7 linked regions of the Homo sapiens genome follow. The protein of the gene in region 1 purifies or fractionates together with the protein of each later gene. This does not show direct contact. Each region holds a gene or a part of one and is shown in the gene's direction. Other genes may lie near its edges.

Region 1 (3,926 bases):
AGGCCTGTAGTCCCAGCTACTCAGGAGGCAGAGGCTGAAGGATCGCTTGAGCCCAGGGGAATGAGGTTACAGTGAGCTATGATCCTGCCATTACAGGCCAACCCAGAGAGATCCTATGTCAAAAATGAATAAATACCCTGGTGTGGTCGCTCTCGCCTGTGATCCCAGGACTTTGGGAGGCTGAGGCGGGAAGATGACTTGAGTCCAGGAGTTTGAGACCAGCCTGGGCAACATGGCAAAACCCCATCTCTACAAAAAAAATACAAAAAATTAGCCGGGTGTGGTGGCGTGGGCCTGTAGTCCCAGCTACTCAGGAGGCTGAGGTGGGAGAATTGCTTGAGTCAGGGATAGGGAGGTGGCAGTGAGCCCATATCGTGCCACTGCACTCCAGCCAGGGTAACAGAGCAAGAACTCATCTCAAAAATAAAAAATAAAAATAGGTGGCTGGGCGTGGTGGCTTACACCTGTAATCCCAGCTACTTGGGAGGCTGAGGTGGGAGAATCACTTGAACCCAGGAGGTGGAGGTTGCAGTGAGCCGAGATCGCATCACTGCACTCCAGCCTGGAAGACAGAGCAAGACTTTGTCTCAATAATAATAATAAAAATAATAATAGTCCAGGCACAGCTCATGCCTGTAATCCCAGCATTTTGGGAGGCCGAGGCAGATGGATCGCTTGAGGTCAGGAGTTGGAGACCAGCCTGGCCAACATGGCGAACCCCAGTCTCTACTAAAAATAAAAAATAAAAAAAAAAAAATTAGCCAGGCATAGTGGTGCGCACCTGTAATCCCAGCTACTCAGGAGGCTGAGGCAGGAGAATCGCTTGAACCCGGGTGTCAGAAGTTGCAGTGAGCCGAGATCAAGTCACTGCACTCCAACCTGGGTGACAGAGTGAGACTCCATCTCAAAAAAAAAGAAGAAAAAAATAAAAAAGAAAGACTCGTTGCCCAGTGCTCCCTCTGGGAGAAGTACATCCAAGGCCCTGGCCCTGGGAGAAAGGCTCTGGCACTAACCCCACCCTTGACCTTTTTCCTGGGCGGTCCTGAAGAATGTTCTGTCCCTTCTCCAAGGCCCCCAGCTGGGACGGCCCAGGCGCCTATAAAGGGGGTCCCCGCTTGGCCCCGGCGCCACCCACCACCATGGACCCCCGTCTGCCCGCCTGGGCGCTGGTGCTGCTGGGCCCTGCCCTGGTGTTCGCGTTGGGCCCCGCGCCCACCCCAGAGATGCGTGAGAAGTTGTGCGGCCACCACTTCGTACGCGCGCTAGTGCGCGTGTGCGGGGGCCCCCGCTGGTCCACCGAAGCCAGGAGGCCTGCGACCGGAGGCGACCGTGAGTGGGGACGGGCAGGGACAGCGCTCTGGGAAGCCGAGGTGGGGCAGGTGCACGTAGGCGCAGATGCACACGTGCAGGGAGGTGGGCAGGTTTGCATGCATGTGCCCAGGGCTCACCTGCCGGCTGCGTGCACAGATCGTGGGTCCGCACTGGAGTGTGTGTGAACGCGCGTGTGAAAGTCCCCAGAGCCGTTAGCCAGGCGTGGTGGCTCACGCCTGCAATCCCAGCACTTTGGGAGGCTGAGGCGGGTGGATCCCCAGAGGTCAGGAGTTCGAGACCAGCCTGGCCAAAATGGTGAAACCCCATCTCTACTAAAAATAATTTTTAAAAAAATTAGCCGGGGATAATGATGCACATCTGTAATCCCAGCTACTTGGGAGGCCAAGGCAGGAGAATCGCTTGAACCCGGAAGGCAGAGGTTGCAGTGGGCCGATATCATGCCATTGCACTCCAGCCTGGGCGACAGAGTGAAACTCCGTCTCAAAAAAAAAAAAAAAAGAAAGTCCTCAGAGCATGAGTCCCCCTGAGGGGCCAGAAACAGAGTGAGGCAGGAGAGGTAGGCTCTTGCAAGTACATGGTGAGATCCTGTCTTAAAATTTCAATATTTTGATCTTCATGAATTTTTGCCTTAATTTTGCTTTGTTTGTTTGTTTTTTGAGACAGGGTCTCACTCTGACGCCCAGGCTGGAGTGCAGTGGTGAGATCTCGGCTCACTGCAGGCTCAACCTCCTGGGCTCAAACCATCCTCCTGCCTCAGCCTCTGGAGTGGCTGGGATACAGGTGCTGCCACCACACCCAGCTAATTTTTTTTTCTTTTTCGTAGAGAGGGAGTCTCACTCTGTTTCCCAGGCTGGTCTCAAACTCCTGAGCTCAAGTAATCCTCCCACCTTGACCTTCCAAAGTGTTGGGATTAGCGATGTGAGTCACTGTGTCCAGCTTTAAAAGTATTTAAAAGTATTGCTTTTGAAAAGTATTGCTTTTCACAATTATGTTACTTTATTTTATTATTTTATTTTTATTTATTTATTTTGAGACATAGCCTCGCTCTGTCACCCAAACCAGAGTGCTGTGACGTGATCTCGTCTCACTGCAACCTCTGCCTCCCGGGTTCCAGCAATTTTCCTGCCTCAGCCTCCAGAGTAGCTGGGACTGCGGGCACGCACCACCACACCTGGCTAATTTTTGTATTTTGTTTGTTTGTTTGAGATGGAGTCTCGCTCTGTCACCCGGGCTGAAGTGCAGTGGCACGATCTCAGCTCACTGCAACCTCCGCCTCCTGAGTTCAAGCAATTCTCCTGCCTCAGCCTTCCAAGTAGCTGGGATTACAGGCCACTCCCCAGGTCACCCACTACCATGCACAGCTGATTTTTTTTTTTTTTTGTATTTTTAGTAGAGACAGGTGAACAGGTGAAACAACAGGTTTCACCATGTTGGCCAGTCTGGTCTTGTTTTGTTTTGTTTTGTTTTGTTTTGACATTGAGTCTCGCTCTGTCCCCCAGGCTGGAGTGCAGTGGTGTGATCTCGGCTCACTGCAAGCTCCGTCTCCCGGCTTCACGCCATTCTCCTGCCTCAGCCTCCTGAGTAGCTGGGACTGCAGGCGCCTGCCACCAAGCCCAGCTAAATTTTTTGTATTTTTAGTAGAGATGGGGTTTCACCATGTTAGCAAGGATGGTCTCAATCTCCTGATCTCGTGATCCACCTGCCTCGGCCTCCCAAAGGGCTGGGATTACAGGCATGAGCCACTGTGCCCGGGCCAGGCTGGTCTTGAACTCCTGACCTCAGGTGATCTGCCCGCCTCAGCCTCCCAAAGTGTTGGGATTACAAGCGTGAGCCGCTGTGCCTGGCCTTTTTACAAATATTTTAAATTTTATTTTAAAAGTATTGCATTAAAATACTTACCTTGCTGGATGTGGTGGCTCATGCCTGTAATCCCTGCTACTCAGGAGGCTAGGAGGGAAGATCACTTGAGGCCAGGAGTTTGAGACCAACCTGGGCAATATGAGACTCAGCCTGAGACAGAGACCCTTGTCTCAAAAAAGGGAAAAATATTAATATTATTATTATTATATATATATATTTTGAGACAGGGTCTCACTCTATCACCCAGGCTGGAGTGCAGTGGCGTGATCTCGGCTCATTGCAACCTCTGCCTCCCAGACTCAAGCAATCTGCCCACCTCAGCCTCCTGAGTAGCTGTGACTAGCTACTCTCAGGCTGGTGAGACCAGCCTGGCCAACGTGGCGAAACCTCGTCTCTACTAAAAATACAAAAATTAGCCGGGCGTTGTGGCGCACACCTGTAGTCTCAGCTACTCAGGAGGCTGAGGCAGGAGAATCACTTGAACCCGGGAGGTGGAGGTTGCAGTGAGCCAAGATCACGCCACTGCACTCCAGCTTGGCAACAGAGCGAGACTCCATCTCAAAAAAAAAAAGCTGATGCTGACATTTGGGGATGTATATGGTAGTGGGGCTGTCCTGTATATTGTAGGGTGTTAGATAACATCTCTGTCTTCTGCCCCCTAATGCCATGAATAGCCTCACACCCCATCCAAGTTGTGACATCTAAAACTGTCCCCAGACAAGTATCCCCTGGAA
Region 2 (4,217 bases), on another chromosome or scaffold:
GCCTGGCCAACATGGTGAAACCCTGACTCAACTAAAAATAGAAAAATTAGCTGGGCTTGGTGGCACGCACCTGTAATTCCAGCTACTTGGGAGGCTGAGGCATGAAAATCGCTTGAACCCAGGAGGCGGAGGTTGCAGTGAGCTGAGATGGCGCCACTGCACTCCAGCCTGGGTGACAGCAAGGCTGTCTCAAAAAAAAAAAAAAAGATTTTATATAGTGTGACAGGAGCCAGAGGTGGGGAAAGAGCAGCCTAAGGTGAGATGGATTAGGGGAGGTTTCTGAGTATGTCAGTGTTCCTGGAGAGGACTGTATAATTTGGCTTGGAGGTGAGGAATAGGAGTGGCTTTCTGTGCAGAATACATTTTGAGAGGGAAGGAGGAGGAGTTAAGACTAGAAGAAAAAATTGAGTGCCAGGGCAGAGACTCTTGTCTGCCTTGTTCACCGTGGGATCTTCAGCACCTAGTGCAGTGGTGGGCATATGGTATGTGTTCAGTGGGTTGATGCTGATAATGTGATGTTGATAAATATGTGTACATATAGCATTTGATGTTTAAATCAACATGAAATGGTCTTAGTGCTCTGTCTCTGTGATGTGATGTCAAACCAACATCTCTTGTAAAGACTTAGATTCTAGTCGAGTGTTTAGATTTACTCTGGAACATGAGAGATCTGGCCAGGTTCCTGGGATACTCGTGGAGTGGCCTTCCCTTCTATTTATCCCCCACTCCTGCCCCCAACAATATTCACATCTCAAGGATGCTCAAAGTTCCTTGAATCTCTTTAAGGGCCTTCTGGAGGAGTTGGGGGTCTCCAAGGACCCTTACCCACTTTGACCAGAGGAGTTCCACTATTATTTCTTTGCATTATTGACTCTTCCTGGTAAGATGTTTTTTGAGGCAGTGGTAGAAGGTTTAGGATCCACCATTTCACAGCATCTCTACAGGCCTCCTTCTCTAGAAGATAAGAAAAAGGTAGCCTTGTATATTTTTCTTAACAGATTCTTACAGTGTAATCTAAAAGTCTAAATATATTATGTGTGGTGGTGATTAATTAGCAAACTCAGCACAGCCTTAAGAAATGAAGATAAACCTAAACTGAAATTCCTCACATATTAAGATAATCACTAACTCAAATGTTAGGAAAATTTTAATTAACAGTTTAAATAGTTGACTTTAAGTTTCCCATTACTGAATTTTGCTCAGCTATCCCTAGGAAGGCCTGGAATAGTCCCAGTTTACACCAGTTAGTGCGGTTTTAATAGGGCCTCTTTCACTCAAGGTGCCCTGGCTTGGAGAAGATATATGGTGACCCTGGTAACCAGGACGTCAGCATTGGTGTTGTGTGTCCTCATGATTACTATTATTGTTATTACTGTTATGATGACGATGGTGATGGAACTCCTTTTCATTGAGTTCAGCTTGAGAATGTTAGTTGTGAATGCTTCAATGACTATTTTATTATAGAAGGAAACATCAACCCAAACCAGCAATATGGAGGAAACTACTCTCCCATATTACTCTCTGATCTTTCCAGTAAATGCCTGGGAAATTCTTTTCCAAGTGAGGAGGGCAAGAGGAGACCCAAAATACAAAGTTGGCACCTTTCAGGTGGGAGGCCAGAATAAAGCAGGAATATAGGGAGGGAAGGATGGTGAGTCTGAGGAGTGTCAGGAAGTCAGTGGGGAGATGTATCATTTCCATGGTGCTTCTGGGAAGATAGATCTGAAATTGCCACTTGCTCTGTGGAAGGAGAGGATCCTTGTTTGTTTTTAAATGTGGACTTAAATTGGGTGCAGCTAGCTCCTTGAGTTTCTGGAGTATCCTGAAATTATATGCTTGCCTTTTTTGAATGTTCTGCAGGGAAATTAAAGAGGGTGCTTTACTGTTGCCCTGAAATTTTCACCATGCGCCAGCAGGACATTAACGACACTGTCAGGCTTCTCAAGGAGAAGTGCCTTTTCACGGTACAGCAAGTCACCAAGATTTTGCACAGTTGCCCCTCTGTTCTTCGAGAGGACCTGGGTCAACTGGAATACAAGTTTCAGGTGAGAATGACTGATAGCGTGATTAGCGTAGTTTCAGGTGAGAATGACTGGTAATGGGATTAGCGTAGTTTCAGGTGAGAATGACTGGTACCGTGATTAGTGTAGTAACAGCAAGTTTCTCAGGTTTTTCAAATGTAGTGAAGGTCAGTTATATGGATAAGAAGCCTCGGACACCTCATATTTGAGTGGAGGAAGTGAAAGACTAGATTCTCTGCATACATCAGCCAAAGAGAAATCTTTAATTTCTTTACTACAGATCAAACCTATTCTTCAACTTTTCTGCCATTAATAATGAATGATCCAGTCCTATTCTTAGAGTCTAAGTGGGGACTCTGAAATAGCTAATTTTAAAATAGCTGAAACCTTCCTGTCCTTAGAATCTATTTTGCATGTTGATTTTGAAAATGTAATTTTAACAGTTGTCCGATTTTTTGGTAATAATTATGACAACTTAGGTCGAATTTCTAGATGTTTTCTGAATGTTTTGCCTATTCTTTCCATATTCATCCTTTTCCTTCCCCATTTAAAGAAAAATACCACCTCTTCCTTCTGCCCCTTCTCCCTCCTGCCCCTTTTCCCTCCCACCCCTTTATTTCCTGCTCCATGTTTCTCAGGATGAATTTGAAAGTGTTTTGAAACTGCTGGCTGTCACACAAATGTCAGTATCCTAGACTGGGTATTCGCTGTTGTCAATTAGGCAATTCTTTTTGAATCCTTTTGTACAACTTAAGTTTTTATGGTTTATAGAATGATAGGTTTCAATACTCTGTATCTGGGACTCCTAAGTGTGTTTGTGTCTTCCAGTATGCATACTTCAGGATGGGAATTAAGCATCCAGACATTGTAAAGAGTGAGTACTTGCAGTATTCACTAACCAAGATTAAGCAGAGACACATTTACCTGGAGCGCCTGGGACGGTACCAAACCCCTGATAAGAAGGGGCAGACACAGATCCCTAACCCATTGCTCAAGGACATTCTCAGAGTTTCAGAAGCTGAGTTTTTGGCCAGGACAGCCTGTACTTCTGTTGAGGAGTTTCAAGTTTTTAAGAAGCTCCTGGCTCGGGAGGAGGAGGAGTCTGAGAGCAGCACATCTGATGACAAAAGGGCAAGTCTGGATGAGGATGAGGATGACGATGATGAGGAGGACAATGATGAGGATGACAATGATGAGGATGACGATGATGAGGACGACGACGAGGCGGAGGACAATGATGAGGATGAGGACGACGACGAGGAGGAATAGCTGTGATGGAAGGACTAGAGCGAAAGGGCCCAGAGATATCAAGGAAGCTTTTCATTCTCTTAAAGCTTTTGGGTCCTTTACTTGAATCTTCTCAAGTTATTTTTTATTCTAAAACTGGTCTCTTGATGAAAAAAATTATAAGTCACCTGAGAGGCAGACAGATCAAACCAAACAGGAAACAGGAAATGCATGTTTGATCTGTTGTCACGTGTCTGTGGGGAGGGCCCTGTCCCATCCTGAATAAGATACTTATGTTGAGCTATTCACATCAAGGGGACTCAATATATCAACAATTGGTTTTATTTTTTTCTCTTTTGAATATGTTGGTGATAATTCCGTGACAGTTGGAAGATGGGGTTCATTCTTCCGGTTCAGGAATCACTATGTATTTCCTTCTTGTGATAAAAATAAAATTACGAGAAGGCAATGTGAGGTTTTAGTACATCATAGCACTTTATTTTATGAAAACATGTAGCAGATTTTCCACAAAAATGCTTATTTTTAATCCAAAAGTATATTGCTTCATAATGGTATTCAGTGCACAGCAGAGTAAAAGAAGTTAATTCATGATGTACTGGTTAATTTTGCATGGCTTCTTAAGGCCAGCAAAATGCTGGCAGTTTTCTTTATCTTTGTGAAGAACAGGCCCTTCCTGTTTGGGGAAGTTGGCTTTTATGTCAGCTCTTGGCCAGTGGTCACTTCCAAGCCTGGTGTCTCCGGCCCTGTAGTCTGTAGTGCCAGACTGTGCTGGCCTGGAGAGTGCTGGGGCAGGTGGAGGCCAGGGAATGGTCCCATACAGTTATCTCCCCTGCCCTGGTTACAGACAGCTTCGAGAACCAGAGGAGAAGAGCATAGGGTCATGGAGCAGGTGGGCTGAAGCCAGGGCCACAGGGAGCAATCCGTGACCCCCCAAGGTGGGTGTGGGGG
Region 3 (3,500 bases), on another chromosome or scaffold:
ACCCCGTGGTGATGAAGGACGGCAAGTGGGTGGTGCAGAAGTATATTGAGCGGCCCCTCCTCATCTTTGGCACCAAGTTTGACCTCAGACAGTGGTTCCTGGTAACTGACTGGAACCCACTTACCGTGTGGTTCTACCGCGACAGCTATATCCGCTTTTCCACGCAGCCCTTCTCCCTGAAGAACCTGGACAAGTGAGCCCCTCTGCTCGCCTCCCACGAGCTCCCTGCCTAGTTGGGGAGCTGGCAAGCAAACAGGCGATTACAGTGCAGGGGACTCGCGCAGCAGCGCTAGGCTCCACACACAGACTGCAGGCAGGCAGGCCCTCATCCTGCCAGCTGTCCTTGCATCCAACAGATTTTTTTTTAACAGACAGGGGGCGGTCTCACTCTGTTACCTAGGCTGGAGTGCAGTGGCATGGTCACGGCTCACTGTAGCCTTGACTTCCTGTGCTCAAGCAATCCTTCCTCCTCAGCCTCCCAAGTGTCTGAGACCACAGGCATGTACCACAGCTGATTTTTAAGTTTTTTAATGTAGACATGGGGTCTCACTATGTTGCCCAGGTTGGTCTCAAACTCCTGGGCTCAAGCGATCATCCCACCTTGGCTTCCCAAAGTGCTGGGATTACACTATGCCTGGCCCCTCCAACAGATTTGACCGAGTGTGTACCTTGTGCCATGCACTGTTCTGGGCACTTGGGGTATAGCAGTGAACAAAACAAGATCCCAGCTCTCAAGGGCTTACATTCTAGCAGGGAGAAACAGGCAAGCAAGAACACAAGTGAAATTATCTAACAGGTTAAAAGATTATTTGGGCCAGGCGCAGTGGCTCATGCCTGTAATCCAAGCACTTTGGGAGGCCGAGGTGGGTGGATCACCTGAGGTCAGGAGTTCGAGACCAGCCTGACCAATATAGCGAAACCCCGTCTCTACTAAAAATATAAAAATTAGCCGGGCGTGTTGGCGGGCGCCAGTAGTCCCAGCTACTCGGGAGGCCGTGACAGGAGAATTGCTTGAACCTGGGAGGTGGAGGTTGCAGTGAACTGAGATCGTGCCATTGCACTCCAGCCTGGGTGACAGATCAAGGATCTGTCTCAAAAAAAAAAAAAAAAAAAAAGATTATATTTGTCGTTGGGGGAAAAAGGGAAGCAAATGTAGAGCAGGGGAAAGGAGGTCAGGAGTTTTGAAAACTAAGATGTCGTGTTAACTTCTAGGGTGAGAGAAAGCCTTGTTAAAGCCTGAATTCCAATTCTGTCTCTGCAGCTTCCAAGTTGTTTGAATCTGGTCATGTGAAAACCTATTTAAGCCTTGGTTTCCACATCTGAAGAATGGAGGCAGTAGTATGAAATTCATAGCTATCAATTATTGAGTGCTTCATATGTGATAGTGCTGAGCACTTTGTATACATGATCTCATTCTTAATAAGAACCCAGTGCATACTTCTTGTTCACCAGGTCTGAAGAAAAATATAAAAAACAGTGAAGTGGGTACTGTTACTACCCCCATTTTGCAGATGTGAAGAGCACACAGGTTAGATGACTTCCCTAAGGTCTCACAACTAGTGTGGAGATGGCGCTTGAACACGTCCTGGCGATGACGGGGCCATACCCTTACCCACCCTCTTATCTTCCAGACACTGGGATGGTTAACTGAGACTATGCACAAAGCACTTACTACTGCGGCCCCCGTAACTAGCGCCCTCAGAGCAGCCCTGAGAGATAAGAGTGGTTCTGGCCCTAGAAGAATGTGGTGGGGCCCAGGCCTCTGTCCTTTTTGTCCTTCCCAGTAGGGCCCCATCTCAAGTTGAATAGTGCAGGGTGGCCCAGGGCTGCTTCCAGGACTTGCCTGTCCTCCCTGAGTTTGGATGGGAGAGACACAAGGGCCTGGACCTCAGTTTTCTGTTCTCTGCCCCAGCTCAGTGCACCTGTGCAACAACTCCATCCAGAAGCACCTGGAGAACTCATGCCATCGGCATCCACTGCTTCCGCCAGACAACATGTGGTCTAGCCAGAGGTTCCAGGCCCACCTGCAGGAGATGGGTGCCCCAAATGCTTGGTCCACCATCATCGTGCCTGGCATGAAGGATGCTGTGATCCACGCACTTCAGACCTCCCAGGACACCGTGCAGTGTCGGAAGGCCAGCTTTGAGCTCTATGGCGCTGACTTCGTGTTCGGGGAGGACTTCCAGCCCTGGCTGATTGAGATCAACGCCAGCCCCACGATGGCACCCTCCACAGCAGTCACTGCCCGGCTCTGTGCTGGCGTGCAAGCTGACACCCTGCGCGTGGTCATTGACCGGATGCTGGACCGCAACTGTGACACAGGAGCCTTTGAGCTCATCTATAAGCAGGTGAGGAGGTTGGGCCCAGGCAGGACCCCAGAGAGTCTGCACCCTCTTCCAGGCAGCCCTGCAGTGGAGCATAGGACTCTGCAGTCAGACCCAGTTTAAGACCCAGATTCAAGTCCTGGTCCTGCTAAGGTGACCTCACTTCCTTGAGCCTCAGTTTCCTGATCTTTGAAATGGGGATATTATTACCATCTTTCTCATGGGAATGGGAGAATAAAATGAATTCATGTATGAGGATAATATTTCTAGAGAGGCATATAGCATAGCCATAAGAGCAGAGATTCTGGAATCTCCTTGGGTTCAAATTCCTGTTCAGTGACAACAAGCTATGTGACTTTGGACAAGTTCCTAACCCCTAGGTCTCCTTGTCCGTAAGAATAAAAATAGTACCTAACTCACAAAGTTAGGTACTATGAGTTGTGAGAATTAAATGAGTTGATAAGTAAAGTACTTCATTTATTTATTTTTGAGACAGAGTCTCGCTCTGTTGCCCAGGCTGGAGTGCAGTGGCATGATCTTGGCTCACTGCAACCTCTACCTCCTGGGTTCAAGCGATTCTCCTGCCTCAGCCTCCCAAGTAGTTGGGATTACAGGTGCCTACCACCACGCCTGGCTAATTTTTGTATTTTTAGTAGATACAGGGTTTTGCCATGTTGGCCAGGCTGGTCTCGAGCTCCTGACCTCAGGTGATCCGCCCACCTCGGCCTCCCAAAGTGCTGGGATTACAGGCAGAAGCCACCGTGCCCAGCCAGTAAAGTACTTTAGAATAGTGCCTGGCACGTAGTAAATGCTACTAAGTTTTAGCTAATGTTATTATTACCTAATAAGGTTAGGAGTTTCATCATGTATAACCTGTAAAGTGCCTGAATGTATAGTAATAGGCAATTACTGGTAGCTACTATTATTAGTAGTATTATAATTATTTCACTCGTCTTGCTCCAAAAAGAGATTGGAGTCTACTTGTAAAATAGAACAGCATTTTAAAAAATCAGTCAGAAAATTGATTGCAAGGCTTTCTGAGTTCTGGATAGAATTTCTTGTGGCAGTTTAAGTGGCTTCTGATTAGCCTCCGGTTTCTGTCAAGGTTTGGTTACAGGAAGAGAACGTACTGATCACATGACCTAAGTGACCTCGCCTTTGTTACAGTTGTTATTG
Region 4 (4,274 bases), on another chromosome or scaffold:
TTGCTTTAGGGGGAAGGGAAGGACTTGTGGAAGGGAATTGGTGGAGCAGGGGAACCTCTGGGGTGGTAGCAATGACCTGGGTGGTGTTTGGTTTATGATTCATTAGGCTATGAAGGTACGTTGTTTTCACTTTTCTGTGTTACAGTTTATAACAAAATCACACGTCCTCTTCATATTTCATTGTTTTGCCTTTGAGATGAGGAAGAATGTAGGCACGAGCCTTAACTGTGCTGAGAAAAGACGGCACATGAAAATCTGAGCTCAAAATGTAAAACCTGTGAGTAGAGTTAGAGTAAAAAGTGGAGTGTGCTGCAACAACAGTAGACTTGCTGGAATGATGAGGTGGTGGCTTGCCTTGGGATTTTTGTTTTTTAACAGTGTATTAGGAATAATAAGGTTGCTCCAGGTGCTAAATTTCTTACTCCCCTTCTTTAGAAGTTGGACCTAGGCTGAGGGTCCACAGTTTTTAAATGTTTTGGAGTTTTCTGTTTTTGTTTTTCAAATGGATTCCCTGATCACCTTTGCCTTGAATCCCCAGAACTAACCTGCCTAAGAAGAGAGGAAAACTGTTGATGTAGTGGGAACGCTCCCTCCTCGAGCATTAACCGGGTTGACCCCACCCCTCTGTCCTCGCTGTCTTCAGTCCAATCAAGATCGGAAAGCAGGATCAAGAGAAAGATGATCAGACCGGAACAGGTAAACGTTCCATATAGAGATGCTTCGGAAGTGCGGAGAAGTGACAGCTTATCCCCTCTCAGGCCGTCATGTTCTCTCAGCAGACCCTCTGAATTACTGATGTCAGAACTTATTGGCTGGGCTACAGCACATAAGCAACTCCTAGAGTTTTAAGACATTAAAAGAAGGTGATTTCAGACAAGAAATCTAGCGCACCATTCAGGTTTCTCCTCGTGTCGAGGCATTGCTTCTCTCCCTTCCTGCCTCTTCCTGCCAGACTTCACCGTCACAGCTCTAATCACACCCTGACTGATCTGATCCCGCCCTGCCACGAGGCCCGGGTACCCCTCAGCGGCGGGGACATCCAGGTGTCCCTGGATTTCCAGGGCACAGTGCGGGCCGGAAATAGGAACACAGAGGAGCCCTTCGGGAGGCTCTCGAGGCAGTCTCTTTCCAGTGGATAGCGACACACCCTGGTCCCTAAGATTCTCATGCTCTCCGAATTTTCCGTCCTGGACCCGATCTGTAGGGCGCAAAGTCCCCTGTACTGAGGCGTTCCCAGGGCGCCCGCCTCCCGCGTTTACATTTCTTAGGCAAAAAGGCAGCGGAGCTAAGCAGGGGTGTTTGGAAGGCGCCCGTTGCGCTGTTTGACTGCGTGGCTTCACTTGGCCCGCGTGCATCAGCCTCTCTGGCGGGGGATTCTCCCCGGACTCCGGCCAGCGCCAATCAGGTCGCGCGGTACCTGCCCCCAGCCCTGGCCACCTGGAGGGGCGATGAGGCTCCACGCCCGGAGCAGGGCAGTCCTCGGAGCGCCGGGGAGGCCGCGGAGCCTCACGTGTGCCGCCCCAGCCGCTGGCGCCCGGAAGGACGCGCTGCGACCCCGTGGGAGCCGAACGCGGGAGTCGCTGCCCGAGCGGAGCTGCTCAGCCGCGGTAACGGGTCGGGGCCTCATCGTGCAGGGGAGCGAGCGGAGGGGCGGGGCGGGGCGCGGGCGGGCTGAGGAGCCGCCGGGCTCGGGCTCCGCGCGGGGATGTGTCTGGCCACCGCGTACTTTCGAGGGCGCCTCAACACCCGGGTAAGCGCGCCCCGGCTGCCTCCCTCTGCCCACCGCGCCGCCTTCAGCGTAGCAGTTCCCCACTGGGTCTGGGTCTGCGCCCTGGCTCTCCCTCTCCGCGCCAGGGGCCTCTCGCTCCGAGGGGCGCGGCGACTCGGGGGCATCTCCGGCCTCGTGGCCAGACCGCGGGTGGCGGTGCTCGCGCCTCGGGGCCGGACTTGCCGGGTCCCTGCCCCCGGGCCGTGCCGAAGGCGCTCTACTCAGCGTGTCTGCAGCGACCCGCTTCTCTGCGCTTTCAGCCGGGCCGGACCTCACGCGGACGCCGCTGCTGCTGCTGCGCCTCGCGCCCGCCGCCACCCGGGGAGCATGAGGCCGGGGCAGGGGACCCGGGTAGGGTGGGGGCCGACCGGCGGGGTCTGCTGGGCCAATGCGCCGCCGTCGGTCAGTGAGTCCGGATTCGTGCCGGCAACTGTGGGCAGCCTTGAGACCGGGGCTCGGTTTGCTGGTGATTTTTCCGAAGTTTTACAAAATAAAGAGGGCGAAGTGCCTTCGCGGCGCGGCGTGGGCATGCAGGCGGCAGGGCCTGTGGGAGCCGGCGTCTCGGCCAGCGAGTCTGGGGCCAGGACAGCGGGGGTAGGACGGAGAAGCCGGACGTGCCCGTGGGGCCGCGGTGTCCTTGCTCCCGAGGCCCCAGAGCGGGCGACCGCACTCCGATTCCAGAGGGCCCTGCGCGCTCAAGGCGCCGGCCACACGGAAGCCTCCGCCCCGCGGCCCAGAGGGGGGCCTGGCCAAGCAGAGAGCAGAGCGGGCAAGCAGAAGGCAGTGTGGGGACGAGGCCCGCATTGGGCTGCTGGGACCCCGCCACCCGGCCTGGCCTGGGTGGGGCGGGTAGAGGCCGAGAGCCGCGCGCCGGGGCCCTGGGTGGGTGGCATCCTGGTTCTCTGCGGCTCCGAAGGCCGCGAGGGAAGTCAGGGGTGCAGATCTGTTCCCTCGGTCAGCGCCCTTTGGCCGACACACACCAGCCGTGTTTTCCTGTCACACTGGGGGTTCCTTTCCTCTGAGTGGAACTGTGGGGCCCTGGAAGTTTGCTAGTCCTGGCAAGTTTGACGTGACGGGGACGCAGTCATCCAACCTGCAGGCGGAGGCCCGCAGGCACTTTCTCCTGTCATTTCGCCCACCTGGGCCCTCCCCCAGGGCGCCCAGGGGGCCCCATCCTGAGATTCCGAGGGGGCCGCAGCGTGGCTGGCAGGACCGACGTCTGCGCAGTTGCGTCTGTGTCCTGCTTGGTCCTCTAGCAGCTGAGCCAGACACATGTTTTATGTCGTGTGGGAGACAAACAATAACTGCGGGCTTCAATCCCGCATGTTCGCTTTGCCTAAGATTCGCTGGAGTCTGTGTCCTGAGGGGAAAGGCAGCTTTCCTTCTGCCCTAATGAAATACTTGCATGTAACAGACGTTCAGACCCTGAAAGAGGTGGACCCCGGGGAAGGAACAGTAAAGGTACATGCTCTGAAAACAGATTTTCTTAGCCTTCTCTAGGGAGGTTTCAGTTCCCATGCCTAAGAGAATCTAAACCAGCAGGTACAGACAGGGTCATGCTGGCGTCCAGAGGGGAAGTAATGTGTGGCTCTCGGAGGGTCCTGCTGGGGCATCAGGCAGATCGGCAGCGGCCCTGCCAGGGCTAGAGATCTGCATTCAGTGACCTCATCAGGCATACTGTTCTGGAAAGGCAAGGTGAGATGGGCTCGTGCAGATGAGAGCAGGTCCCCCTGTTTGGCCCAAGAATCTCTGTTTTTTCTCTAGCTTGCCGTCTGTAACTGGAAATGACCCCGGCTTAGTTCAGGGAGTGCTTCAGCCTGAGTGCAAACATCAGCTGGTAACAGGGGAGCCTGGCCCCAGCACAGTCCAGTCCTCACCCAGAGGCCCACGCTGGGATTTTCCTGATCTGCAAACTTTACAAGGCTGAGGTGGATGAGAGGAGAAGTTGGGAATCTTCTGGGTGGCCACTTAACAAAAAAGTCATTTGACTCTGGTAGGGCCATTCCAGGGTCTGTCCATTGTGAAAAGTGCCCTGGGGTTTAGAATCTGGCCTGGTGATTATTAACATTAATGAAAGTTGCTAACATTTATTAAGTACCTGCTATGTGCCAGACACAAGGTTTTGCAAAATTACTATTATTTCCCCATTTTTCGTGTGATGAAACTGAGTTTGGGGGTAGGGTAAACGATTTGCCAAGATCATAAAGCTAGTTAATGGCAGAGCAGAGCTTGAAGCCCAGGTCTCTTTGGTTCCAAAGTCACTACTCCTTCCTCGGGGCCACTTTCTTCCAATTAAGAACAGACACACATGTGGTAGCTGGAAATCCAGAATTGTCGTGAATAAAGACTCTTACTTGTAGATCCAAGAGATATTTATAACCCCATTAGACTCTAGACTTCAGAAAGTGCTGGCCTGGTAAACAGCCAGCACTTCCTTCTCTCTGTCACTCAAGGGTTTAACTCCTACACAAAGGACTAATTTCTTATTAAGTACAAATCTTTCAAC
Region 5 (3,500 bases), about 18 Mb from region 1:
TGCAGTTCCCCGCCCCTCCAGCCCCCTCTCCATCCCCGCACTGTTGGGCTGCACAAGCCAGGCTGTGTGCCTGCACTCTGCCCTGCACCTCCGCTAGCTAGCTGGGTGACCTTGGGCAAGGAACCAAACTTGCCTGAGCCTCAGTTCCCCGCTGTATCTGATGGGGATGATGAGCAAACCCACCACAGCGGTAGCTGGGAGCACGAATGGAGTGAACATGTGTTTGTGGACACTTAAACGGGCACTTCCCACAAGGCCATGGCCTTGCACGGAGGGCTCTGTCAACTGGTACCACCACTGTTGCTCTGGCATTAGCAGGTACAGGCCCTGATAGCCATTCAGAACTTCCTTTGAATGAATGAATGGAATCCTCAAAACAGCCTGGTGGGCAGGAGGCTGGGGCCCATGACAGCCTTGGGGAGGGCCTGGGGTCTTCTGGGGGCACAGTCTTTGCCTCAGGCCAACTCAGCAATTGTTGCAGAGGAATCGCAAGTGTCCCTAATTTGGAAGGCAGGAAATGGGGGGTATCTGAGAAGAGCTCGTTGGGCCAGATGATGGAAAGTGGACTGACAGAGCAGGAGACAGGAAGAGGATAACCATGCATGTGTGATGGCTTTGCAGGGCAGCCCATTCATTCATTCATTCAGGCAGTGGAAACAGGAGTGCAGACCCGAGGTGGGACCAGCCACCTGCACTCCAGCAGGCTCTCCCTCTCACTCCCCTCCCCTCTGCCCTGACAGCAGTAAAAAAATGCAAAAAATGACAGCGGTAGCACTTCCTCATCGGGTTGTGAAGGTTACATGAGTTTAATGCAGGTAAGGCACTTAGAATATGGGCACAGGACAGGTGTTCAGTAAACACGTATAAAATGGCTAACTAAAAAAAAAACACGAGGCCAGGTGCAGAGGCTCATGCCTGTCATCCCAGCACTTTGGGAGGCTGAAGTGGGGATCACCTGAGGTCAGGAGTTTGAGACCAGCCTGGCCAACAGAGCAAACCCCGTCACCACTAAAAATACAAAAAACAACAACAATAAAAAACTAGCCAGGTGTGGTAGCGCATGCCTGTAACCCCAACTACTCGGGAGGCGGAGGCAGGAGAATCGCTTGAACCCGGAAGGTGGAGGTTGCAGTGAGCCAAAATCGTGCCACTGCACTCCAGCCTGAGTGACAGAGTGAGACTCTGTCTCAAAAACAAAACAAAACAAAACAAAGAAAACCCATGAGGCCAGGCACGGTGGCTCACACCTGTAATCCCAGCACTGTGGGAGGTCAAGGATCACTTGAGCCCAGGGGTTCTAAAGCACCCTGGGCAACAAAAGTGAGACCCCATCTCTACAAAAAAATTTAAAAATTAGCTTGGCATGGTGGTGTGCGCCTGTAGTCCCAGCTACTCGGGAGGCCAAGGCAGGAGGATGGCCGGAGCCAGGAAGATCAAGGCTGCAGTGAGCTCTGATTGCACCACTGCACTCCAGCCTGGGCGACAGAGGAAGACCCTGTCTCAAAACAAACAAACCCCACAAACATTGATTGAACCCCCCATTGAGGGGAGCAGGCTCAATGGCAAAGGAAACAGACCGACACTGGCCAAGAATCACAGAAGCAAAGCACCCGGTTACTCATGATAAACCTGGGAAGGAAGAAAGTGGAACAGTTTATTCACTTAATGCTTGTTTGCTAAAGCCAAGTAGAAAACGGCAATACTAGATGTTTAGTGTGCTTCAAATACAAATGTTTGTCAAAATACCAAGTAAAAACATAAATTTATAAAACAGGAAACCAGAAACCTCCCTTACCTTTCCAATGTAAACCATGAGCCACTGCTGCCCCAAGGCTGCCTCAGGCTTCAGGAGTCCTCCAGGAGCTTTTTCTTTAATGCAGTGTCTGTTTTCAGGGACCCTCCTGGCCTTTGGCAGCCAGCTTCCTATTGCAGGAGCTGAGGGTCTAGGAGGGTTCATGGCGAGGTTGTCAGAGCTGGGAAGCAGAAAGCAGCCGGGCAGGCCTCACAGTCACAGAGTCCACGTCCCGGGCAGCATATGGAGAAAGGGTCTGGGCTGGCTGACAGCAGTCAGCATTGGCGCCTCTGAGGAGGTTGAGGGCTGAGTTGGGGAGGTCACCACCTGTACCCAGGCATAACAGGGGTGGTGCAATCAGCAAAGGGAAAGTGGTCTGAAGTGGGGCAGTGGTGAAAAGCTAGGCCAGCGGGGTGGAGCCCATCTGGAACAAGTAGGTGTGTGGGGTAGGGGACGCAGGTGGTTGCAGGTGGGCCGGTACCTGCTCAGCCTGTCAAATGGTGAAAGCCATGGACTATGAAGGTGGGGCTCAAGCAGGGGAGACTGACTCAGCCCTGCCACTTCCCCACAGCAAAGAGCCCAAACAGATCCCCTGGAGGGCTGTCGGGAGCCCCTACGTGGTGGAGTCCACAGGCGTGTACCTCTCCATACAGGCAGCTTCGGTAAGCTGGGGAGAGGTGCCCAGGGCTAGCTGGGGGGATGATGGTGCCAGAAGCCCCTGACACCTGCGCTTCCTCCCCAGGACCACATCTCTGCAGGTGCTCAACGTGTGGTCATCTCCGCGCCCTCACCGGATGCACCAATGTTCGTCATGGGTGTCAATGAAAATGACTATAACCCTGGCTCCATGAACATTGTGAGGTAATGTGGGCAGTGACATCCTGCAATGTGTGGAAGGGAGGGTAGACTCGTCCTCCCCACCCTCAGCCCCACTGGATTCCTGGTCGCTTGGCTTCTGCTTCTCCTTCCCGAAACTATCTGCTAAAAACGCATGACTTCCAGAGGACAAGCTTGGGGAGCCTCCCCAGCTGCACCTCAGTGCCTCCTTCAGTCTGACAGTGTCCCCACAGATCCCTCTCACCCTCATCCTGACGTTTCATAAAACCAAGTCTGCGTGCATACCCCAAGAGGGGTAAGGGTGGAGGGGTGGCTCTGCGACTCACCTCACAGTGTCCGTGCACACCTTGGCTGTTTCAGCAACGCGTCCTGCACCACCAACTGTTTGGCTCCCCTCGCCAAAGTCATCCACGAGCGATTTGGGATCGTGGAAGGGTTGATGGTGAGTTGAGGATGAGGGGCTGGGGCAGGAAGGATGGCAGGGAAACCCAACTTCTTCCCGGGCCTTGCTTACTGTATGGAGTTAAGAGGGAGAGACTGGTTTCGGGAGGAGAGGCCCACCAGTGCAGAAGTCACTTAAAACACTGTGCAACCCTCAGGCAAGGCTGGACCCTGGCCTGCACACATCCCCTCCTGTGGTCTGTGGTGGTGGCCCCACCAGCCTCCACACCTAGGCCACCAACTTAGTCCTGGAAAAAAGAGGCATGGGAGCTTAGGAGCATGAAGGCCTCATCTTGGTCCTTCTCTTCCCCAAGACCACAGTCCATTCCTACACGGCCACCCAGAAGACAGTGGACGGGCCATCAAGGAAGGCCTGGCGAGATGGGCGGGGTGCCCACCAGAACATCATCCCAGCCTCCACTGGGGCTGC
Region 6 (3,500 bases), on another chromosome or scaffold:
CCAGGGAACATACAGCCCCTGAGATTTCAAATTTTCATGTCCTCCCAAACTCTCCTCATCCAAGTTACTGAATTCCTATGTTCTTTAGGTTCCTCATCTTTAAAAGGATACTGCCTAGTGTTTCATGAAGAACTCTTTAATTATATAAACACTACTAAACAAAAATAAACAAACCTAGTGAAGTTGTATACCTAGCATGGAGTTGCAGCCCCGATAGGACTGCAACTGTAGGTTCTGTATCATTGCTGCAAAGTGACACTTTTTTTCCCTTTGACTTTAGTTATTTCAAAAACTTTCGATACTGCTCCTATGCTCCCCATGTCCGAATATGTATGCCCTTGACGGACGGCATTTCTTCATTTGAGGACCTCTTGGCTAACAATATCCTCAGAATATTTGTCTGGGTTATAGCTTTCATTACCTGCTTTGGAAATCTTTTTGTCATTGGCATGAGATCTTTCATTAAAGCTGAAAATACAACTCACGCTATGTCCATCAAAATCCTTTGTTGTAAGTATGTTTCCAGTATAAGTAGATTAAGGATATCTTCTGTGAGTTGTGCACTAGACATATATATGTATTTATTGGCTTTCAACAAATGGCATTTAATGTGAATTATACATCCTGGGCACATTTTTTTTTCTAAATATAAAAGTTCTGGCTCTTTGTGGCTTTGTTTTAGGTTGTATGACCTTACAGTGGCCTGCTCTCAGGAGTATGTCTTGGGAATGGGCTAATAGGCAACCAATGAGTCAAGTGACAGATTATAAAGTTTTGTGGGTGATAAAACTAATCTGAACTTCAATTACAATGATACCTATGCTCATTAGGCCTGGAAAATGATTCCCTTTATTAACTATGAAGATACTATATGTTAACTGTTTAACAACTAGTCCTTCCTCCTTCCAGAAAATTCCCATTCCGATTTTTTTAAACTACAAAATAAAAACATAGTGTAGTACTTTAGAAATATTACAGATTTTTAAGTCCACTCGCTTCTTGGTACTCAGATGTTTACATTAGTTCATTTGATATAAGATGAAAGGAACTAGATCTAATTAGAAAATTAAAATGCTGGAAATAGACTTAATCAGAAAACTAAAACAGGGACATTGGAAACTGATGACATACACTGTTTCAATTCTTCCACAGGTGCTGATTGCCTGATGGGTGTTTACTTGTTCTTTGTTGGCATTTTCGATATAAAATACCGAGGGCAGTATCAGAAGTATGCCTTGCTGTGGATGGAGAGCGTGCAGTGCCGCCTCATGGGGTTCCTGGCCATGCTGTCCACCGAAGTCTCTGTTCTGCTACTGACCTACTTGACTTTGGAGAAGTTCCTGGTCATTGTCTTCCCCTTCAGTAACATTCGACCTGGAAAACGGCAGACCTCAGTCATCCTCATTTGCATCTGGATGGCGGGATTTTTAATAGCTGTAATTCCATTTTGGAATAAGGATTATTTTGGAAACTTTTATGGGAAAAATGGAGTATGTTTCCCACTTTATTATGACCAAACAGAAGATATTGGAAGCAAAGGGTATTCTCTTGGAATTTTCCTAGGTAAATTATATTTTTTCATTTCCTGGAAAAACATAATTTTGCTAGAAATACGTTAAATTTCAGCAAAGGTGGATTTGTTTGTTTCAGAAAGTGAGATAACATAGTCAAGACTGTGTCCTTTTTCACACAAAAAAGTTTTTACTATTGTGTTTATTGAAGTTTTATTAAACTTTTTATTAGACAATATTTAGTGTGGAAAATAAAGACATACTACCAGGATCTCTGGATGATATTTTTATTATCCATAAGATCCTTTGATTTCATGTTTATATGAAATGACTATGAGCTGAAGGAATTCCAGTTTAGTGCCTCATCCTGTAAACCTACCAAGTTATTTAAACTCTTTTTTTTTTTTTTACAATCTAGTTATGAGTTAAGTAAATAATAATAAAACTCAGGAAACTGACAAGTAAGAGATATCTGAATGGAAATACCAGGAAGGTTTATTGCCTTTGTTAAATGCAGCTGTTAAGTCAGCAATGTAAGGGTGCTTAATAAAGCTCTTTCCTTTCCAGTTTTCTCAATTCCTTCTAATATTGTAAAAGAAGACTCTGTGTTCTTTAGAAATGAATGACAAATTTAGCCCTTTAAAGTTAAAAACACTTTTTTTCTATTTTCTAATATGTATCCCTCCTGCTTAGAATTAAGGCCTTTCCTATATCCTCTCTTTGGGGCGATCTTCTTTTGACTCTCTCTTCTAATCTTTTCTTCCCATCCAAGGAGCCAACAAGCTCTTCTGTCCTTTCTTTTTCTTCAAAATTTGCTTCTGCTTCTGCTCCTTCCAGTCTCTACCCACTGCTGTTGCCTTAGTTGGAAACCTTACTCCCTCAACCCTGAATTATTACCTTATCCCTTACTGGTCTCGTAACCTCTGGGACCTTCCCCTTCCTCTCATTTATCTATTCACTACCATTGTTATATTCTCTGACTATCAAAAGGACTGTGTACACCTCCACTCAGAGACCTTCAGTGGCTCCCTAGTACTATCAAGGTCAAGTTTAAATTAGTCACTTAAAACTCATCATGACATGACCCTAACCATCATGCCCAGTTCTTCTCCATTACTCCTTCTCTTCCTCCTCTGAAAAACAGAACATTTAGTTTGCACCACTTTAGTAATACCCCTCACACACTACCCTATTTGGTAGTTATTTGGTCATAGATATGTCATTCCCAGGATCCAGAGTATTACAGGCTGTTCTTTGTATTTCCTTATCATTCATTCCCTCATTACTCCTAACATAGGTGCACTTAATAGAGACTCTCCCTGAAACACACACCACACACACACACACACACACACACACACACACACACACACCATGACATGCATTGTTCAAATAGGCATTTATTCAGCACTCACTATAGGCTGTGCACTATATACTATATTAGGTACGGGAGAAACAACAGATCCAGCCTCAAAGGCCTTACAGACCACAGAGGAGGAGGCAGACAAGTCAACATGTCCTCACATCACACACAGGCTGATAAATGCCATCAAGGAAGAGTACAGAATGTTCTAGGAGCCCCAGATCTGAGTAACAGGGAAGGCTTCCCAAAAGAAATGAATTCAAACTGAGGCCCAAAGGATGAGGAGGTATTAGCCAAGCGAAGGCAGAGGAGGGTGGGGTGGGGTCTGTGTTCCAGGAAGACATAGTGGATTCCCAGGCTCAAAGCCAGGGAACAGGGTAAGATGAAGGACTGAAGAAACTCATTTGGTGGAGCATACCATGCAGGCATGGAGCTCGGCCCAAAGGAGTTAAGTATCTGGGATATATTCCAGATAGACAAAGAGATCGTCACACACACACACAAACACACACTCACAAAATCATCATCATCATCAATTTGCATATGAGAGGAAGAGTCCCAGAGCTCTAAAGTACAATTTTTTTTCTGTTTGAAGAATATAAGAATACATAATTTTTAATTAATTT
Region 7 (3,500 bases), on another chromosome or scaffold:
GGCCATACTGCGGGCCACCGCCAACCTGCCCTCCTACAACATGGACCGGGCCGCGGTCCAGACCAACATGAGAGACGTGAGTGTCAGCCCAGAGCGGCGGCGGGTGCATGGGGTCCCCGTGTGGGGGATTGCTGTGGGGGGGTTCCTGCGGGGCGGGGCAGCAAGAGGAGATTCTCTGGGAGGATTTGGGGAAGCCGGTGAGCGGGTCTGTAGGACTGCACTATTTTGCATTTTTTCTGTAAATCAAAAATTATTTCCAAGTAAGAGTTGGAAAGCCATCTGAAGGCAGGATTGAAAAGATAGATACCCCTGGGAAAACGTCAATCCGGCCCTGAGTTTGGCAAAACGTTTAGATAGAATTCTGAACCCGAAGCGGGTGGATCACCTGAGGTCAGAAGTTCGAGACCAGCCTGGCCAACATGATGAAACTCCGTCTCTACTAAAAATACCAAAAATTAGCCGGGCGTAGTGGCAGGCACCTGTAATCCCAGCTATTCAGGAGGCTGAGACAGGAGAATCACTTGAACCCGGGAGGCGGAGGTTGCAGTAAGCCGAGATTGCATCATCGTACTCCAGCCTCGGCAGCAAGAGCGAAACTCCGTCTCAAGAAAAAAAAAAACACACAAATCTGAACCCGTGAGTTATTTTGGGTCAGAACATTCTAAGTTAAAAAAGAAAAGTGTTTGCAGTGCTCACGTGGACGCCGCAGCAGGCAGGGCAGGCACGTGCTGTGCCGGGGTGGGAGGACGGCTGGCTTCCAACTTCATCTGATGCCAGTCCAACCTAAGGGCACTGCTATAAGCCCTGTTTCATTTTAGGAATGAACCTCTTGGGGTGTCTTCCAGAGAGTTCTGTGCTGACCAGGGCATGGTGGCTTTTCCCCAGCAGCCAGCATGTGTGTCTCCCATCCTGTGTGTGTCCGGCTCAGAGGTATTTCTCTAGTGTGGTGTCCGCACCAAGGCTCACACTTGTGTGAGAGTAGGGACAGCTGACGCCTGACCTCTAGGCCCTGTAGCCAGGAGCTGTTCTGGAGGGCATCTCCGGTCCATCCCACGGCTCCTCCTGCCTGGGGAGGACAGTGATGGCCGCCGCAGACGCTGTGTGGCAGCCATGCCTCCACTGGGGGCTGGCAGACTCATGGGGGTGGAGCCTCAGATGATTCTGTTTTCTTCAGTGAAGCCAGAGAGGGTCTTCAGCTTGCCCTGCACCTGCGCCAGCTGGGCCGACGGTTTCCTCACAGGGCACAGGCTGAGTATCGGGCCAGCACTGAGTGACCGTCACCAGGCGTTCCTGTCCCTTTCCACTGGCTTCAGTCCCACCTGCAGGGAGGCTCTTGGCCCTGCCAATCCCCTGCCTTGCCCTCAGCTGATCCTGCTGTCTTGCAAGAAAGCAATGTCATCTCAACTCTCAGAATCAAGAGTTCTAGGACAGGGGAGCAAGTCATAGATCCAAGTAGGTTTGGTGGACATTTAGAGAATTGATCTCCTTTTTTTTCACCACAGTTCCAGACAGAACTCCGGAAGATACTGGTGTCTCTCATCGAGGTGGCGCAGAAGCTGTTAGCGCTGAACCCAGATGCAGTGGAATTGTTTAAGAAGGCGAATGGTATGAGTCAACCCCGATGCTGCATTCCAGGGCGGTTCACTGCCGGCCTTGGGGAGCGTCTGCAGCTCCACGCACTGACCACTGACCGGAACCTCAGTGCTTTATGGAAGCGCTGATGAGGGCCTGGGGCCTGCCTCACCGGCAACTCCTGTTGATGTGCCTGAGGGCGGGCAGGTGGAGCTCAGACAGATAATTGCTGCAAATGTTTGTGCTCAGATAAGGCCCCTGAACCTGAGGCTGGAGCCCTCATGGCCCTGTCGTCTCCCTGCAGCAATGCTGGACGAGGACGAGGATGAGCGTGTGGACGAGGCTGCCCTGCGGCAGCTCACGGAGATGGGCTTTCCGGAGAACAGAGCCACCAAGGCCCTTCAGCTGAACCAGTGCGTGGGGGGCCACCTCCTTCCCTTGCCGGAGACACCTGGGGCCTGGTTTTGTGGGGCTCCCACCGTGGGTGACGTCCTCCTACCCTAAACTCTTTGACTGAATCATTTCTAACGTGGGGTTTTGAAGAGGTACCTTAAATATGTGCCTCCAAAGTGTTTTTGGGGTGAATGTGACAGAACAGTCGTTGTGTAAATTCTCTTTGGGCCGTTGTATGAGAACTCAAGGTGAATCCCGTTCGTAGCAGGGACACGGCCTCTAACAGTCTTCTCAGGATTCCCGTGTGAGTTACTTGCCCTGCTTCTGTGTTCAGATCTAAAATGAATAATCCGAGATCCAGGGGCAGCCGGGGGCAGTTCCCCCTGTGGTCCCTATCTAAGCCCTCAGCAGATATCTCTGGGTCCGCTTGCCTCTCCTTAGACATGGGCTTCTGATTCTGCCCAGGGTCTCAAGGTAGTCTGAGGCAAGGACCAGCGCTTCCGTCGCACCTGTGTTCATTCAGGTTCTTGTTATAAGGGTCACCAGCTGATGCTGGAGAAGTCACTACCATAGCAGAGGCTCTTCTTGGGAATGGACAGGAGGCGAAGGCCCTGGTCCGTTAGTCTGGGGATGTTGGAAAGAGTCTCTTGCCTTGCAGCATGTCGGTGCCTCAGGCCATGGAGTGGCTAATTGAACACGCAGAAGACCCGACCATAGACACGCCTCTTCCTGGCCAAGCTCCCCCAGAGGCCGAGGGGGCCACAGCAGCTGCCTCCGAGGCTGCCGCGGGAGCCAGCGCCACCGATGAGGAGGCCAGAGATGAGCTGACGGAAATCTTCAAGAAGATCCGGAGGAAAAGGGAGTTTCGGGCTGATGCTCGGGTATGTGTTACTAGACCTGTCGCCAGGCAGAGTCGCTGTGTCTTCCCTTGAGGTGGCGCCATGGAAAGGAAGCTGGGGCTGCATGGCTGACCTTGGGCTGAGCTGGCTCCTGTCCCAGGAGAGAGAGAAGCTGGGGAAGGGGTTTACAGGTGGGCCTGGGAAATGGCGAGCCTGGGGGCGGTGGGCCTGGGGACCGTGGCCCGAGTTTCTGAGCACACCTGTAAGTTATCCTGGCTTGAATCCAGGCGCCCCAGTTTCCTCTGTGTTGCCACATTCGTCACCTTTTGAAAAACTTGATATTTTACAGTTCCTTCTGACCACTCATCCACAAGCCCCCCCTGTTCGGCAGCCTCTCTGCGGGGTGGGGGCCCTGCCCAGAGACCGGGAGGGTCATTTGCCGTCGGGGGTGTCCATGAGCGAGGGGCCGCTCAGGCTGCCAGCCGCCTCCATGGCACAGTCTGCAGGGCTGAAGGGTCCCTGCGCCTGTGTGTGTGGACCTTCCTCGCCCGCGCCTCATCTCCCCATTCTTCCTTCTCTCTCCTGTTCTTTGATTCGGGTTTTACTTCCTCCTTGGAGGTTTCTGTCTGTCTCCGACATGCTCAGATGGCAGATCTGCTCCATCTGCATGCTGTCGTCTCGTGTGGCACTGATCGT

The links.
Region 2: the proteins of INSL3 (region 1) and MTERF4 purify together in Homo sapiens (affinity purification with mass spectrometry; 3 studies listed by BioGRID and IntAct, with this or other methods). This does not show direct contact.
Region 3: the proteins of INSL3 (region 1) and ARPC4-TTLL3 purify together in Homo sapiens (affinity purification with mass spectrometry, with the first as the bait; one large-scale study listed by BioGRID). This does not show direct contact.
Region 4: the proteins of INSL3 (region 1) and FAM163A purify together in Homo sapiens (affinity purification with mass spectrometry; one large-scale study listed by BioGRID and IntAct). This does not show direct contact.
Region 5: the proteins of INSL3 (region 1) and GAPDHS purify together in Homo sapiens (affinity purification with mass spectrometry; 3 studies listed by BioGRID and IntAct, with this or other methods). This does not show direct contact.
Region 6: the proteins of INSL3 (region 1) and RXFP2 purify together in Homo sapiens (affinity purification with western blotting, with the first as the bait; one study listed by BioGRID). This does not show direct contact.
Region 7: the proteins of INSL3 (region 1) and UBAC1 purify together in Homo sapiens (affinity purification with mass spectrometry; 3 studies listed by BioGRID and IntAct, with this or other methods). This does not show direct contact.

Annotation. Positions count from the first base shown.
Region 1 is NC_000019.10:17,818,720-17,822,645, reverse strand, and holds the start of INSL3 (insulin-like 3 isoform 2 precursor), read left to right. Parts: upstream 1-1,126; 5' UTR 1,127-1,139; coding exon 1,140-1,329; intron 1,330-2,155; coding exon of another isoform or gene 2,156-2,250; intron 2,251-3,926. UniProt on the Homo sapiens protein: Seems to play a role in testicular function. May be a trophic hormone with a role in testicular descent in fetal life. Is a ligand for LGR8 receptor.
Region 2 is NC_000002.12:241,095,071-241,099,287, reverse strand, and holds the end of MTERF4 (transcription termination factor 4, mitochondrial), read left to right. Parts: intron 1-1,860; coding exon 1,861-2,045; intron 2,046-2,849; coding exon 2,850-3,290; 3' UTR 3,291-3,717; downstream 3,718-4,217. UniProt on the Homo sapiens protein: Regulator of mitochondrial ribosome biogenesis and translation. Binds to mitochondrial ribosomal RNAs 16S, 12S and 7S and targets NSUN4 RNA methyltransferase to the mitochondrial large ribosomal subunit (39S).
Region 3 is NC_000003.12:9,827,048-9,830,547, forward strand, and holds part of ARPC4-TTLL3 (ARPC4-TTLL3 fusion protein), read left to right. Parts: coding exon 1-193; intron 194-1,912; coding exon 1,913-2,348; intron 2,349-3,500. Other genes in the region: tubulin monoglycylase TTLL3, read left to right, coding at 1-193, 1,913-2,348.
Region 4 is NC_000001.11:179,741,817-179,746,090, forward strand, and holds the start of FAM163A (protein FAM163A), read left to right. Parts: upstream 1-1,474; 5' UTR 1,475-1,607; exon of another isoform or gene 1,608-1,750; intron 1,751-4,274.
Region 5 is NC_000019.10:35,539,956-35,543,455, forward strand, and holds part of GAPDHS (glyceraldehyde-3-phosphate dehydrogenase, testis-specific), read left to right. Parts: intron 1-782; exon of another isoform or gene 783-1,629; intron 1,630-1,795; exon of another isoform or gene 1,796-2,119; intron 2,120-2,363; coding exon 2,364-2,454; intron 2,455-2,534; coding exon 2,535-2,653; intron 2,654-2,955; exon of another isoform or gene 2,956-2,989; coding exon 2,990-3,071; exon of another isoform or gene 3,072-3,318; intron 3,319-3,384; coding exon 3,385-3,500. UniProt on the Homo sapiens protein: May play an important role in regulating the switch between different pathways for energy production during spermiogenesis and in the spermatozoon. Required for sperm motility and male fertility.
Region 6 is NC_000013.11:31,791,526-31,795,025, forward strand, and holds part of RXFP2 (relaxin receptor 2), read left to right. Parts: intron 1-280; coding exon 281-510; intron 511-1,152; coding exon 1,153-1,563; intron 1,564-3,500. UniProt on the Homo sapiens protein: Receptor for relaxin. The activity of this receptor is mediated by G proteins leading to stimulation of adenylate cyclase and an increase of cAMP. May also be a receptor for Leydig insulin-like peptide (INSL3).
Region 7 is NC_000009.12:135,944,374-135,947,873, reverse strand, and holds part of UBAC1 (ubiquitin-associated domain-containing protein 1), read left to right. Parts: coding exon 1-76; intron 77-1,502; coding exon 1,503-1,605; intron 1,606-1,876; coding exon 1,877-1,985; intron 1,986-2,623; coding exon 2,624-2,846; intron 2,847-3,500.